Linked DNA regions of Homo sapiens: region 2 is linked to region 1. The links come from fine-mapping of genetic effects on gene expression. A gene starts in region 1. The other region holds a variant in brackets. All regions are shown on one strand. Distances are from middle to middle.

Region 1 (2,921 bases):
TTTGTATTTTTCGGTAGAGACGGGGTTTCACCATATTGGCCAAGCTGGTCTCGAACTCCTGACCTTGTGATCCACCCGCCTAGGCCTCCCAAAGTGCTGGCTGCAGGGAGCCGAAGGCCCTTGGGATGTGACCAACTCAGCATTCCGCTGGAGGCTATATGATCAAACAGCAAACTGTTTATCATGAATGCAGCACCTGGGCAAACTCACACTGCCTTGCCACCAAATGGTTTGCTGAGCGCCTCACTCCCTGGCGCCAGGCTCCTTGAAATTATTTATTGAGAAATCTAGCACCTATTGTTCAAAGAATGCAGTCTTGCAAGCCTGCTGTGAATCAAGCAGCCAGCCAACAAGCACCTCCCCTTCTCGCTATCTCTTTTGCCTAATAAGAAGGGCTGTGTAAAGCTCAGGGCCCTTGTCCACTAGAGGCAAGGTGCCCCCTGACCCCTTCTTCCAGATATACTCTTTTGTCTCTTGTCTTTTATTCCCGCGTTCGCCCCTCTTTGTTCAGTCCCCTAGGTCCGTGCGGGTTACATAGTGGCACCCCGAACAGCAACAGCATCGGGTGCTCTACAGCTGGGATTACAGCGTGAGGGACCACGCCCGGCCTCATCGATATCTTTTAAGTACCACCTCCTTTCACCTCTTTCCCAGAAGCCTCTGCTCATCTCCAGCACAAAGTAATTCGATACAAATTTACAAAATGGTCATTACCCAGGATCACCTGTCTCCGAAGTTAGATGGAAACACCTGTATTAAAGCCTAAAGCTATTCGGTCTGGAAAAGTCCGGCTCCTCTCCAGCTTCCACTTCTTTAGGCGTGCAAATAAGATTCGGCAGAGTAAGCATCAACTTCCTTTAAGCTCAGACCGCACTTTGTGCTCAGTACTGTAATTATCTGCCCTTTGTGTCCCATCCCTTGGACTGTAATGTATACTAAGGAAGAGCCCTTATCTTATTTCTCAATCTCTGTCAGTACCCAGCCAAGCACACAGTAGACTTTAATATTAGTGAAAATAAATGAAACAAAATTTCTTCCCCAGCTTTGAACCTAAATAGATGAGCACCCTTAAGCAAGTCACTTCACCTCGCTGGAACTCAGTTTCCCCACCTAGGCCTCCGAGGGCTCCTCAAACTCTGGCAACCTCTAGCCTAAAATGCTGCGGAGATCTTACCACAAACCTGGGGAGTCTGGCAGGCTCTCTGCATTGATTAAAAGAAGGGAACGAAGCAAGAGAAAAACAAGTCCTCAATTGTTTTCCGCCGAGAAGGCGCCGCTGGAGACACTCACCCTCCCTAAACCAGGGGGCCATGTAGCTCAGGATGTAGGTAGGGTCCAGGGTCTTCCGGATATAATCCTGGAAGGCTTGCAGGCTGCGTCGCTGCTCGGTGGTCATGCCGGCCTCTGCTTGCAGCTAGCTACGTTCCCCGCAGGCTGTGCCTCACTAGCTTTAAAGCCGGGTAGGAGGAGGGCGTGGCGAGCGGGGAAAGCAGGGATTTTCCGAGGAAATGAGGCCGGACGCGAGGCGGAGCTGCATAGGAACTTTAATAACTAAAGGGAAAATCGAAAGTGCAACTAGCGGCGGGCGGGGTTCGCGGAGGCTGTTTTGCCTCGGGCTAGTTTCGTTTCCCTCCGCACCGAGGAAGCCCGGGAACGGAGAGGACCCCTAGGAATTGCTTTTATTTTTATGATCTTATATTTTGTTTTGCTTTTATAGCGCTAACGTTTAGACACAGTAAAATGCACACAATCTGAGTGTGCAATTCGATGAGTTTTGTAAAGTGTACACCTGTGTACCCAGTTCTCCCACGTCGGCTGGGTGCCAGGGTAAGTCTATGTTTAGCTTTATAGGAAACCGCCACCTGTTGTCCAAAATGACTGATTACATCCAGTTTACATTCCCACCCGCAGTAGGAGAGCTCCAGTAGATAGACACATTGGTCAGCCTTTCTTTTTTTTTTTTAATTTTAACTTCCATCTTGGTCGGTGTGAAATGGTATATTATTGTGGTTTTAATTTTAATTTCCCATATAATTAATGGTGGGCACATTTGCATGTGCTTACTGGGTCATTCATATATCTTTTGTGAAGCATCTGCTCCAATCTTTTGCCTGACTTTGGAGTTTTTTGGTTTATGGATTTACAGGAGTTATTTATTCAGGATACAAAATTGTTAAATATATGTATTCGAAATATCTTCTTCCAGTCTGTGGCTTACCATTTCATTTTCTTAAAGGTGTCTTTTGAGGAGCAGACACTTATATTGATGCAATTTTCAGGTTTTTCTTCTGTTTGTTGTTTTTTGTGTCCTCTTTAATAAATCTTTGCCTACCCCAAGGTCATGAAAATATTGTTTCCTTTTAGATTTATATTTTTAGCCTTTACTTCTGGGTCTATTACTATCTCAAAATAATTTTGTTGTGGCGTGAGATGGGGGGTCCAGGTTCACTTTTTCCATATTTCTAATTGTTTCAGCACCGTTTGTTGAAAACTTTTCCTTTTGGCATTGGATAGCCTTGGGACCTTTGTAAAAAAACCAAGTCCATTGAATGTATATGTGTCTATTTCTGACTCTTGTTATATTCTACTTCCTACTACTTTGACAATACCATTGTCTCTAGGTTACTTTAGATTTCAACTAAGTCTCAAAATCAAGTACTACTAAGTTCTCCAAATTTGTTTTTCACTGTGAAGATATTAGCTATTTGAGATTCTTTGCATTCCTTTTTTTTTTTTTTTTTTAATTTCTTTTTTGAGACAAGGTCTCACTCTGTCTCCCAGGCTGGAGTGCAGTGGTGCAAACAGGGGTCACTGCAACCTTGAATCCCTGTGCATTTCCATATGAAATAAGAATCAACTTGTCAATTACCCCTTCCTTCCCCCAAAAAAAGTTTATGGGGATTTTGATCAAGATTGCATTG
Region 2 (2,921 bases), 70 kb before region 1:
ATGAATCCATTTTAAGGACAGGAATTGGTTTACTGACCTTGATGTTGGGATGACTCTTCATTTCAGGGTGAAAATATCACAGCATCAGCACAGGCCAGGACCACAGAGATAACAAGGTGGTAGTTGTGTAACAGGTTGTGTCTGAACCACAGGAGCTTCAAAACATACACGGCTGGACACCCTGCCAGGATGCTCTAATGGGGCTGGGCATGTGTCCATGAAAAAGACTCCCCAGTTGTTTCTAAAATGTGGCCTTTGTTCTAGAAATGCAATGACCAGCATTTGGGAGTCAGTCAAAAGATCCACTTCCTAAAAGCCTACCTGCTCATTTCTTTCATTCAATACATATTAACCAAGTGCCTACTTTGTTTGAGTCCATGCCTGGCAATGACATTATTCCATTAAAAGTCAAACAAGGAAATGCTAAGTTCTCCTTATTTATTTTCACTTCAGTCTGCCTGCCTCAGTTGGCTGAATAGGGCTATTCACCTTCATCCAAATTGAATCATTTACATACTTAAAAGAACTTTTCTTGGCCAGGCATGGTGACTCACGCCTGTAATCCCAACACTGTGGGAGGCCGAGGCAAGTGGATCACTTGAGGTCAGGAGTTCAAGACCAGCCTGGCCAACATGGTGAAACCCCGACTCTACTAAAAATAAAAAAATTTAGCCGGGTGTGGTGGTGGGTGCCTGTACCCAGCTATGTGGGAGGCTGAGGCAGGAGAATCACTTGAACCTAGAAGGCAGAGGTTGCAGTGAGCCGAGATCACACCACTACACTCCAACCTGGGCAACAGAGTGAGACTCCATCTCAGAAAAAAAAATAATAATAATAACTTTTATCTTATTAAATCTATTTCTAGTAGATGTTTTACACATCCTATTGGAGTTCTTAAACAATAGTGTATTAGTCTGTTTTCACACTGCTATAAAGAACTGCCTGAGACTGGGTCATTTATAAAGAAAAGAGGCTTAATAGATTCACAGTTCCACATGGCTGAGGAGGCCTCAGGAAACTTACAATCATGGCAGAAGGGGAAGCAGGCAAGTCTTACATGGCAGCAGATGAGAGAGAGAGTGTGTGTAAAGGAGGAATTGTCAAACACTTATAAAACCATCAGATCTCATGAGAACTAACTCACTATCCCAAGAACAGCATGGGGACAACTGCCCCCGTGATCCAATCACCTCCCGTCAGGTCCCTCCCTTGACACATGGGGATTATAATTCAAGATGAGATTTGGGTGGGGACATATAGCCAAACCATATCAAATAGCAATTAAAAAAAATCACATAAGAAAAGACACTCTTAATAAAATACAAATAGAAAATGAAAAAAAACCAACTCATAAACTTGGTTTAAATAATCCATTTGTATTGGGTCTTAGTAAGAATACTACTACTAGTAACTATTATCAAGCAACTACTGTGTCATGTACTTTTCACACATTCTTTTAATTAAAAACTCTCCACTAACCCTTACAGTTCAGTATTATCCTTGTTTTACAGATGAAGAAAAGCCAAAGAGAAGTTATATAACTGGCAAGTTTCTCTGGCTCCCCGCCTGCACCACTGCTCACCAGATTGCATGAAGAGGGAGGCAGCTGTAACACCTCATCCCGTTGATCTCCAGGGAACTCAGATACTTGTTTCCACGTCCAGGAAACC[G/A]CAAACTAAGCTCTTTGAAGCATCAGCAAACCTTGCTAAGTGACACGTGAATGCCATTTGGATACATATTCTAATCTTTCAAGTAGAAAGGACAGTCAGACTGCCTCATCTGTAACATCCAAGGGATCTGAGAACAGACATTCAGTCCAGGTGTTGAACATCAACATCATTATAGGAAAATGGTCAAAGAGAACAATGGCACACGTTAAGAGAACATATTAATAGGGCAAGATGTATAGTAAACTAAGTTTTCAAGAAGTATTTTATCATTTTTATGCTCTCTACTAAAAGCTGACCACTGTAGAGTGGATACACATTGCTACATACAGCAACTCTACAGTGGACAGCTTTTAGTAGTAAGCATAAAAATGGCTTTATGTTCTCATGTTCTCTGTGTAGCCATACCACACGTTGCTACACCAGGAACATGAGTACATATAACCATTACATATACATACCTGTATGTATGTATATTAGTTACATATACATATGTACAGTATATACATGTATATATATTGAACCCTTGGAAGGGATCAGCAAAGAGGAGGACTCAATAAAAAAAGACTAGAATAGAACTAGAAGAGAGAGAAGCCCAGGGAGAGCTTCAAGAAGAGTGCTCAACAGGGCCAAATGCGCAGAGGTCAAATAGAAGGTTAAGAAGTGCCCAGTGGATTTGGCAACCAGAGTCACTGGTAACCTTCAAAAGAACAATTTCAGTAGATTGTTAAGGGCAAAAGCCAGTTTACAGTAGGTTAAGGAGACAAAGGGAGATAAAAATTCCCAACATTCCATTCATTCATCTATCCCAGTGTGTACAGAGTGATTACTGTGTGTTTGTTGGCAGTTGACTCTAAAAAGAAGGCTAGAAATGAGGCTTTTTAATTTTTCCCAAGTACTATGAGCTCTGTTGGCCTACAAAATACTCAGTGCTGTGATTCACTCATTTGTGCTTTGCATATATAATATAGTACAAACTGCTAAAGATATTTTTAAAAAATATATTTTCACAGGGGTACAAGCGATCCATGATTATACCCACTATGTTTGTTTCTTCTCCACTCAAAGTTACTCATTCCCTGTAGCTGAAGATTGAGGACCTGATATCATTTGGACATTTCTGCTGGATCAAATGGTATCTTCTCAAAATGAAAGTCCTTCCACTTCGAGTACAGTGTCTGAACTCCAGTTGCAATATCCTCCACCACAAAACTTTCAATTTTTATAACTGGAATCTCAAATGTCTTGTACTTC

What was found. PIP is the estimated chance that this variant, and not a neighbour inherited with it, causes the effect.
Region 2: its variant is fine-mapped to the expression of RIGI in whole blood (TOPMed, PIP above 0.99).

What each region holds. Positions count from the first base shown.
Region 1 is chr9:32,524,771-32,527,691 of GRCh38, forward strand. RIGI (RNA sensor RIG-I) reads right to left here and starts at 1,426. Exons shown (of 18, transcript NM_014314.4): 1 at 1,291-1,426. The coding sequence starts at 1,396. RefSeq lists an enhancer at 1,327-1,576.
Region 2 is chr9:32,454,349-32,457,269 of GRCh38, forward strand. ACO1 (aconitase 1) reads left to right here. Exons shown (of 21, transcript NM_002197.3): 21 at 1-421. It overlaps RIGI (RNA sensor RIG-I), which reads right to left. Exons shown (of 18, transcript NM_014314.4): 18 at 954-2,921. The coding sequence ends at 2,774. Among named protein-coding and RNA genes, the nearest start is that of RIGI, 70 kb to the right of the region's middle. The variant G/A (reference allele first, on the strand shown) is at 1,671.